Regions from separate parts of the Homo sapiens genome. Here region 2 is linked to region 1. Evidence: fine-mapped expression QTL. Tissue or cell type: nucleus accumbens. Region 1 holds a variant in brackets; the other region holds the start of a gene. All regions are shown on one strand. Distances are between the middles of the regions.

Region 1 (5,383 bases):
ACTCTTAAATACATAATGGATAAAAATGAAGATGGAGAGTGGATGGAGATTGGATGGAGAAGTAGGCAGAGGAAATAGTCTTACATCCCCGGATCAGGAAAGAATAAGGGCCCAGAAAAGTGGAAGGAAGCTATAGCACTGGGGGACTCAGAGGACCCCAAACTCTCTCCCACTATGAAGTTTCCTTGACTACTCAAAAACGACATTTCTTCCTAGTCTGATGACCCCACTCACCCCGTGACTAAAGACCGTGGACAGCCACGATTTTGGGGCTGACTGCTCATGTCCAGCACCCCCTTCCCTTTGTTCGTGAAGCTCACGTGGAAGCAGAGCCTTACAATGACCCCAGACGTCAGGGCTGGACCAACTGCCCGTATTAGATTTTTAGGGCAGCCAATAACTAAATACCACAGGGTAGCTTAAAACAACAGGAATGTATTCTCTCACATTTCTGGAGGCCAGAAGTCTAAAATCACAGAGGCAACAGGCCATGCTTCCCCCAAGATTCTGGGAGGATCCTTCCTGGCCCCTTCCTGGCTCTGGTGGCCGGCAGTCCCTGGTGTTGCTTGGTGTGTAGAGGCATCGCCACGATTTTTGCCTTGTTGTCCCATGACGGCCTTCTCTCTGCGGGTCTCAGTCCTCACATGGCATTCTCTTCTTCTTATAAGAACACCAGTTATGCTGGACTAGGGCCCACCCTAATGATCTCATCTTAACTCAGTTACCTCTGCAGAGACCCTATTCCTACTAAGGTCACATTCGCAGGTTCTGAGGGGTAGGACTTCAGCGTATCTTTTGTGGGGACACAATTCAACCCAGAATACCCTTTGTGTTGGGTCAAGTTCTCTAGAAGTAGAGCCTGAGGTGAGATTCTTGTTCAAGCAATGGATTAAAGATGTACCTTCCAGAGAAGGAGGGTGAGAGAATCAGGGGAGGGCAGGGGCAAAGGGAAGCAAGGATGTGGTCTCAGAGGAAGGTTAGCCTCAGCCTGGCTCCACAGGGTCTCTGAAGAATGAATTCTGCCATACAGTCAGTCCATTTTTAGGCCTGTGAGCCAGCTTCCTACACACTCATGTCACTCTGTCGTTGGCTAGGAGCCTCCATGGGTGTCATCTCCCAAGCACGGCGGTCCCATCTGCTGAGGACAGTTATCTGGAGAAAAGGAAGACATTCTCTGCTGTGAGAAGACAATTCTCACCGCAGCTGGGCATCTGTGTGGGGCATGGATGTCAGCCCCAGCACTTCCAGCAGCTGGTTTGCAGAGGGGGCCACAGACGTGCCTGCTGCCTTCCCGCCCCTCCCCCTCCACTGCCCATCGTCTCTTAAGTTTATACATTGAATGATTAAATGTTACTTTTGGATAAATCAGATTATTGCCAACTTCCCACTTAATAAATACAGAGCAGTAAGCAATATTTTACATTAAGCATTAAGTTTATACAGTTGATCCTTGAACAACGTGAACTTGAACTGCATCGGTCCACTTATATGCAGATTTTCTTCTGTTTCTGCCGCTCCTGAGACACCCCCCACTTCCTCATTTTCAGCTTATTCAATGTGAAGACATTGCACAAGGATGAAGATCTTAGTGATGATCCACTTCCACTTCATGAATAATAAATATATTTTCTCTTCCTTATGATTTTCTTTTCTTTTTAAGAAGTGCAGTGATGCAATTATGGCTCACTGTAGCCTCAAACTTCTGATCAAGGGATCCTCCAGCCTCAGCCTCCCAAAGTGCTGGGATTACACCTGCACCCATCGCCTTATGATTTTCTCTTTCTTTCTTTCTTTCTTTCTTTCTTTCTTTCTTTCTTTCTTTCTTTCTTTCTTTCTTTCCTTCCTTCTTTCTCTCTTTCTCTCTTTCTTTCTTTTTATTTCTTTCCTTCCTTCTTTTTCTTTCTTTCTTTTTTCTTTCTTTCTTTCCTTCCTTTCTTTCTCTTCCTTCCTTCCTTTCTTTCTCTTTCTTTCTTTCTCTTTCTCTCTTTCTTTCCTTCTTCTTTCTTTCTTTCCTTTTTTTTTGAGACAGGGTCTTGCACTGTTGCCCAGGCTGGAGTGCAACCTCAACCTCCTGGGTTCAAGCAATTCACCCACTTCAGCCTGCCAAGTAGCTGGGACCATAGGTATGAACCACCCCGCCCAGCTAATTATTGTATTTTTCATAGAGATCGGGTTTCTGTGTTGCCCAGGATGGTCTCGAAATCCTGGACTCAAGCAAACCACCCACCTTGGCCTCCCGAAGTGCTGGGATTACAAGT[C/G]CGAGCCAGTGGACCTGGCCCATGATTTTTTCTTCTGTCTAGCTTGCTTTAAGAGTATAGTGCATAATATCTATAACATATAAAATCTGTGTTAATGGACTATTTATGTTATCAGTATGGCTTCTCATGTGTATTAGGCCATTCCTATGTTGCTGTAAAGAAAGCCCCACTCTGTGGTTCTTTCTGGGCAATTCTGGGAGGAATTTAGTGTCCTCAGAGCTCCTGGTGGAACCCAGGCTCAGCTGCCTCCAGCATGAGCTCATATGCTGGTGTTTTTTCTTTCCCTTGCTTCCTTTCCCTGCTCCCTCACTCCTGCTTCCTGGGCCCACCTCCCAGATAAACCATCTGCATTCAAGTCCTTGTCTCTGGCTCAGCTTTCCCAGAAATCCCACCCAAGACAGCTGCCTAGAAGAACCTTTTACACCCAGTTTTTCTTGAAAAGCATGATTTACTCAAGATCAACCAGCCTATGGGCATTTTCTTGAGGAGTTTGATCGTGGCTGACGTTGACACTGGGCAAGTCAGCCATGATGGCCTAAAAGCATGGCCTTGGAAGTCCAATCTTTTTTGTGTGCCAGACCTAACCCCAAATTCCATTTTTTGTTTCAAGTGAGATAAATTTACATACAGTGAAATACATATTTTAAGTGAACAATTCAATGACTGTCAATAACCAAAATTCCTATCAAGATATAGAGCATTTTCCTTACCCCAGACAGTTCTTTCATGCTCCTTCCAGTCAAAGGTAACCATTGATCTAATCTCTATGACCTTATATTAGTTTTGTTTGTTCTTGAACTTGATATCAATGTTTTCACATTGCATGTATTCTTTAGTGTCTAGTTCCCTTTGCTCAACATGTTGTTTTTGAGATCTATCCATTTTATTGTATATATCAATCATTTGTTCCTTTCATTGCTGAGTAGTATCTCATATGAAAAAAAACACATTTTGAATATTCATTCCCCTCTTGATGGACATTTGGGTTGTTTCTACTTTGGAGCTATTAAGAATAAGGATACTATGAACATTCGTATACAAGTCTTTTTCTTGAAGAGCATATACATCTTTTCATTTCTATATATTTGGCTGAATGCCTAAGAGTGGAAGGCTGCTGGCACTTTTTTAATGTTTTAAAAATCTGCCAACTGTTTTTCAAAGTGGTTGTAGCATTTTATATTCCCACAAAAGTTATAGGAGAATTCCAGTTATTCAACTTTCTCATCCCTATTTGATGTTGTCACTCTCTTTTAATTATAGACATTCTCATCAAAGTGCCCAAATTGTTTCTTAAGTAGAATGTGATGATTTGGACTATTGTTTACTGACTTCCCTCCCATGGTGAAAAGCGTAGGCTTCCCCACCCCATTGATACTGGGTTTGACCATGAAACTTGGCTTGACCAGTGGAAGATTAATGGACAATATGGAAGCAAAGGCATGGAATATCCTTGTGCTGTGTCTTGCCCTGTTATGTTTCTGCCAGTGCCACAAGAACATATCCTGGCTAATCCACTGATCCAGTAAAGGAGGAAAGATGTGGGGAAGAGGTAGACCCAAATGGCTGCTCAGAGCCAAACACATTGGAGTCCAGCTACTTTGGACATTTTGGGAATATGTGATCCTTGTTTTAGGCCAATGGGTTGTGGGATGATTTGTTACACAGTATAACTGTGGCAGTGATTGATTGCCACCATAGAGCCAGGTGTCCTTGTCAAGCCTGTCAAACTGCCTGGAAGCATAACTGCCCCATTCCCAGCTGGACTACCTGCTGAAGTCTGCATTAACCAACATAGTGAATAGCTTCATTCTAACTACTCTGGGCAACCTTGAACTTCTTGCCACTCAATATTTATCAAAGGCTTGATTAAAAGAAACAATATTTACAAAGGACGGTCTGAAAGTTATGCCATCCAGCCATTGCCTGAGTCCTGTAAAATGTCTCGCTGCATTAATCTCAGGTGGCAGAGAGCTGGTGTCCTAGGACTGAATTGTTTTTGCTCTCTCAGAACAGCTTCTACCAGGTTGTGTTTTGGCATGACCCTATCAATGTATCACAGAGGAAATTATAGGGGAAACCTTCATGATGCTTGTGTTTGTATCTGCTGTAAGGACATTGTTGGGCATGCTCTGTGAAAAGGCAGGGGAGGGGGAGTGAGTTTTATTATGATTGATATTGTTGTAGTGTTAATTATTGACTATTCAAACAACCTCTTATCCACTATTCCTGTCTGCAATTTCCCATCACACTAAACTGCGCTGAATGCTTTTGCTTGCGTAATCTTTAAAATATAACTTTACTTATTGTACAACTATTATTGTACATATACAGATGCATACATACATATATATAGGAAAATATATAATATACAGACAAACATAGAGAGGGAAATAAAATTTATTTCTAAGACTTTCAATCAAAGATAAAGAGTCTGGATTTTGAATCTTGACTGTCCAGACTGGAATTCCACTTGCAGCATTTACCTTTAGCTAACTATTTAATCCATCTCTGCTGCTCAAATGGAATCTAACAAGATGTTCAAGCGGGTCTCAGCCCAAGACAATTGATGCTCCTTCCAAATAAGTTGCAAGTCCATGATATAGGTTTTATGAAAGAAGTGACTCGTGCTTGCTTTGTGACTTAATTGTTCACCCACAGAAATGGAATAAAAGGACTGGAGGCTACCGGAGAAGAAAGAAGATAATTTTTGGAAGAATTGATTCTGCTCTGAGTCCTGTACTCTCACAGAATAGAAAGGTTTAGATGTTCTGTTCATCTCAAGTCAAAGGAATAGTGCCTATAGAGAAGTTGAGGGCATGATGAGGTCTCCTGCAGTCATGAAGACACAGTGGACTGGTCTGACCCAAGCCTGACACCTTAAATGGAAAGAAACAAGCTAACTGTTCTGATGGCAAAAGGCAAAATGAAGTGGCTGCCCTGAGCAAACTTCACTCCCAGAGTCTCTGAGGACAAAGGATAAACAAGTGTTTCCTGTGTGTTATGCATGAAGGAGCATCTTCCTGGAGTCATCCCAGAAGCTGCCTGGGAGTCATCTGAAGAAGCAAAAAGATCACCTTTGAAAGGAGATGGAGATACCACCAGATGCTTTTTGGCTGGAGAAGGAG
Region 2 (5,383 bases), 31 kb after region 1:
GAGTACTAATTTGTTTCTTCATCCTTAAACCAGTACTTTCGGTTAACTTTCATCAGAAACGGTAGATTTCTTTAGTATGGCCACTCGAGAAACATAGGTTTGTGTTAATTTTTTGTTTTGTTTTGTGGCTGTTTTTGTTTGTGACTGCTGGGAGAACAACAGGGTGGGGGAGATTTTGATGATGGTCGCTGATATTATTCTTGTATTTCTGTTTCTTAAAGTTCAAAGTACATAACTGGAAATACCTGTGGACGGTTGCCTTAAAAATATTTCTAATCATATTCGCCTAAAGAAAATAAAAACTACTACCTATTTTTAAAAAAAGGAATGCCAGAACTTATTTTTGCTTTTTTATTCTGGCTTTTCCCATGATATTTGAGTGGAATAATATGCTATGATGTTTATGTATGAAAAACAGAATACACTTGCATATGTTATGAGGAAGAAAGCTGCTTCTAGGAAAACGAACTTTTTTTTTCTTTTTTTATGTTTTAGGAAATGATTTATCAAAGTAACAAAATAACTCATTGGGAAAGCAGTGTTATTTATAAAAACAATCAGCCTTTGACTTCCTTTCATTTTTATAAGGCTAATGTAACAAGGATGTTGCAGAGGCAAAAATGAACTCGAATCCTTTTAACCATATGAACACTTATGAATTTTATTGCAGCTCCTATGTAACCACTTTATTTAACCAACTAAATAAAGCATGTACTTTTTAAAAATATTTAATGTTCAGCACCAAAAACTGTATCCAAAGAAAATGTACATTTCCTGTGTAATATCTGCCTTGCCTCGTTAATTCGTTAGAAAAAAATATATACAAACATATCCAGGGAAATGCTTTGGGTTTTTTCTAAAGTCATAGATGTTTGTGTAGAAAGGAATGGAACCATCTTCACACGTGAATTGAAAGCGGAGATCTTCAGTGCTGGAGTTCAGAAAATGAAGAGAACTTACAAAAATGTACAGCTGGGAATGCCATTCCAGTGGATCTTCCCCACCACGAAGTTATTACTGTGTGAACAATGTTCATTAGCTTTACCAATATTGTACTTCTGTTTATCTGCCATTACCATCTTCACAAAGTAAATCACTCCTGTTCTTCCCAGATCGCATCTCTTCCCCCACCCTCTGAAAACCAACATTTGTTACCCATAAGCAGGGGGGGACGCTTAGTGATAAGTATAATAGCTTAAATTGAATTTTCCTTCGAATGATTTAGTGAATACTAGAACACATTTTTACTTTGTTGTTTAGACTCAAGAAGGCATAAAATCTCCGCCATCTATTTATCATGTAGTTATTTTAATGTAAACATGTGTCCGTTTAGATGAAGTGTTTTCATTATTAAGCTAATTCCAACGTGTCTCAGATAGACCATGAGAAGGGAGCCGAGCTCTGGCTGATGGGGAACCGAAACCTGCCTCCGCTCAGCCTGCTGTCAGATATGTCTTCATTAGTTTTTTGTCATTCACCGGTGGCAAATGCTGTATAAATGGAATGATGATCAGGCCCGCCTTGATAACTTGTCTTATCTCATTAGTTTTCACATCAAAGTTAATCAGCAATGTGAATTGTAATTGCTAGAGGAGACAATGCGTAGATCGCTGGTTGCTTTTTTCCCCCTCCCCTGTATGGCATCTTGAAACATCAGCAGGCTGGCTGGAGCAGATAGGCTCGGAAGGAAAATGATGTGGAAGGCATAATAAGCGAGCTGCTCAGAATTAATGAGCTAACCCAGTAAGAAAAGAATGGCCAATCAATGTGAGTTGGGCAAATATAATTTAGAAATAATTGCTTGATTGGTTGCCTATAGTAGACTGATTTGACCACATACAAGGATTAAGAATTAAGATGTCAAGGCAAAAAATAATTTGGCAACTGAGGGCATGTAATTTTTTGTGTCCTTCCCTTTATGATTGAAAGAGATGGGTGTTTGAGATGCTATTCGCCAGAATGAAAACATTAGACACCCTCTCGTTCTCTTTCTGCTCCTCTCACAATGCAGGCCCATTCAGAACACAATTGTGATACTCCTGGACAGGACGTGAAAAAGGTATGGATTGAGAGAGAGAGAGAGAGAGAGAGCGTGTGTGTGTATGTGTGTGTGTTCCCATTTATTGCAGTTATGCCCAAAGGATGAATGGGTTGGTACATAAGGTGTTTGCATCTGCGCTGAGCTGCAACATCATTGGGAGGCATGGCAAAGTGAGAGATGTGGATATTTGCAAAATACGTCAATTGTCTGTCCTCGGCCGAAGAGTTCTGCTCACATCCTACATGTTCCTAATGCAATTTTCCCCACAGCTATTCACCAATTAGTAGAGGGCCCTTGCTATATTCTTCTGTCTAAACTATTGGGAAGGTTCAGCCAGAAGGTAAATTTGCTTTGATCTACATTACACCTAATTGAGTCACCAGCAATGTCTCTATCCCAACATCAAGAAATGTGAAAATGTTAGATTATTTCACTGGGGATTAAACCTAATTTTCGTGTGTTCTGCATTAACCTATTAGGCTGGCTAATCTGCATTGCTAATGTGACTGAGGCAGCTGTCACAGCTAAAGAAAAACATGATCATGCAATCCTTGAATGAATGATTCCCAGCCTGATTAGTCTTAGTGAAGTTAGCTGAGCCCTGGTGATAAGGAAGGAAAATTCCCAGGTTGCCAATAGCTTTGAAAATTATCAGACTGTAGGCAAAAATATACCTCATGATTCACAGGCTTCGGTCCAAATACCGAGTTGAGTGACATTATTTAAGACTGACTAAGGCTAACTCGAATTGTCGCTCGCATAAATGTTTGTGTTTATTTTAAGGGACTAACGTAATGGATGCAGATTTAAATGCTAATAGACGCCAGCCAGACACATAAAACCCCAGGCATTGTTACCCTGTTGGTCTTTTATTAACATAGATTAAATTGTAATATTTTCTAGATAAATTGGCAAAATCAGAAAGATGCATTGCCCCCCAGAATGCTCGATGAGGACGACTTTTGCAGGACTTCTGGTTTTTCGGGAGATGAGGATCACAGTAGTGGAAGTTTACACGTTCACTACTCTCATTATCAGTTTAAAAAAAAAGAAGAAGAAGAAAAATAGGGGAAAAATGTGTTTATAAGGAGGAAAATAGATTTCTGCAGCTCGCTGGCCAGAACCACTTTCTCTGTCTGTCCACTTAATTGGGAGGACTCGGCACGCATTTCTCCTCATCCCTGTATTTTGTTCGCTTGGAGAAGGCTTCGCTGCAGTTTCAAGACTTTGCGTGCTCCTCTCCATTTGATTTCAACAGCAAGAGAGCCACCATGATGGGTACCCTTCAGATGTGGAAAGTGTTCAAGGGAGTTTGGTGGCTGCAAATAGAGCTGGGAGTCCATTTAATCCGATTAGCAGTTCCGCAAAATGGGCCTCGACCCATTGTGGACAGAAGCCTTTACTTTATTTGTTTCCATTAGCCAAGAATCAGTTATCAGAAAAGTGGAATTTTGCCCCATCAGATTGCCCAGACAATCAACAGAAAATAAATGAGGAAATAGTCTAATGTGTCAATATTTGTCTTTTGGCCCTAATTGTCCACAGAGGGGACTTGCTGAGTGTGTGAAGTTGGCAGCCTGGGTTTATCTGTGTACTCTTGATGGTTTTTCCCACTGTGTAGGCACCGGAGCCGCTACGTGCACAGTAATGACATCTCAAAGGCCAACAGCACTGGCTGGAGAATAAAGGCGTTTTAAAGGTCTAAGAACACTGGATTGAAGAGCCAAGGAGAACCCTTGATGGATGAGGAGGAAGGCAGAGCCCAGCAAATGACAAGGCATTTGTGACCAGGTTTCCAATGCCGGAGTGAGGTAGAACAAAAGTACTGAAGAGACAGGAGCTTCCGTTCCTGCCCCGGTGCCAGCTTGTCTTTCCCGTTTCCCAGGAAGCTCAGCTGACTACAAGCCTACGGGGGTACGGCCCTCCTCTTATTTCTGTTGCCTCTTGTTAGTTGAGAAATGTTAGTGTCTCAAATTGTTTTAGTCCCTCAAATTGCCTTTAAGGATAATGGTAATAAAATGATTTAAGCTACAATATTTGAGTATTCACTATTTACCAGATACTATTCTAGGCACCGAATATTTGATTTCCCCCCAAGCCCCATGAGATGCTGCTATCATTAGGCCCATTTTACAGATGAGTCACTGAGGCCCTGAAAATAATTTGCCCATATTCACTCCACCAGTGGCCATAGAGCCATGCCTTGAACCTAGGCAGTCTCACAGGCTTTTCATTACCACTGGACCCCAGATTCCAGGGCCAGGCCTAGAGAGCCAGTGTCTCTTCAAATTTTACACCCTAAGTACCCACCAGAATCCCCTTCCCAGACACCTTCCTTCCTTCCTTTCTACTGATCTCTCCTTCGCCCCCTTGAAAAGCTCAAGACATGGCTGGGCATGGTGGCTCACGCCTATAATCCCTGCACTTTGGGAGGCTGGGGCGGGTGGATCGCCTGAGGTCAGGAGATGGAGATCAGCCTGGCCAACATGGTGAAACCCCATCTCTACTAAAAATACAAAAATTAGCCGGGCTTGGTGGCGGGCGCCTGTAATCCCAGCTAGTAGGGAGGCTGAGACAGGAGAATTGCTTGAACCTGGGAGGAGGAGGTTGCAGTGAGCCGAGGCTGCACCATTGCACTCCAGCCTGGGCAACAAGAGCAAAATTCCATCTCAAAAAAAAAAAAAAAAAAAAAGAAAAGAACAGCTCAAGCCACAACAATGGCAGAAATGGTGCACAAGCCCATCTCACACAGTCCCCCTGACTGAATGTTTTCAATAACAAAATCCCACTCAGTTTTCACAGAATCTTTTCACTGAAGGTGGGACAGAAATTTTGATTATCCAGGCCTCCTTTAGGCCTCTCAGACCACAGTGACACTTGAGCCCCAAGTCAGCAGAGATCGCTGCCAAAGAGTCACGCTTTAGCAACTTATCTGGACTGTGGACAATGGCCGTGAACTGACCCTTTTCCCCTTGTTCAGCTGAAAGGTGCCCTCCCCTCTGGTTCCCTGAGATGAGCCGTGGCTCCTGATTCATTCCGAGAAGACAGCAATTGGATCTAATCATGGAGCACAACACACGCTGGATGGGCCATCAGCGCAGAGCCATAATCTCTGCCTGGAGTGAGTTCTTCCATAACTCCAGCCCATTGCACAAAATTGACGGGCTCTTTTCTTTTTGGCTGGATCTGATAGCATTCTGGGAAGTCTTTGTACCGCTTTATATCACAGGATCACTATACCTGTGTGGGAATGTTAACAAAACTATGGTTATGAAACACTGATATTATCTCTTAGTAAATTAAATCTGCCTTTCCTACGAATAGTGGAGTTAAGAAAGCTGA

Which allele goes with the higher level. Positions count from the first base shown, and alleles are read on the strand shown. Sizes are in standard deviations (SD) of each study's normalised expression.
For the expression in nucleus accumbens of the gene that starts at base 1,959 in region 2, allele C in region 1 goes with a higher level than allele G (moderate effect, 0.49 SD a copy in GTEx).

The links. PIP is the estimated chance that this variant, and not a neighbour inherited with it, causes the effect. A credible set is the group of variants that fine-mapping cannot tell apart.
Region 2: LINC03083 starts here. The variant in region 1 is the best candidate, but not a certain one, in a credible set for the expression of LINC03083 in nucleus accumbens (GTEx, PIP 0.64).

What each region holds. Positions count from the first base shown.
Region 1 is chr20:20,937,671-20,943,053 of GRCh38, forward strand. No RefSeq gene overlaps it. Among named protein-coding and RNA genes, the nearest start is that of LINC03083, 30 kb to the right of the region's middle. The variant C/G (reference allele first, on the strand shown) is at 2,259.
Region 2 is chr20:20,968,490-20,973,872 of GRCh38, forward strand. It overlaps LINC03083 (long intergenic non-protein coding RNA 3083), which reads left to right and starts at 1,959. Exons shown (of 2, transcript NR_186504.1): 1 at 1,959-2,059; 2 at 3,663-4,073.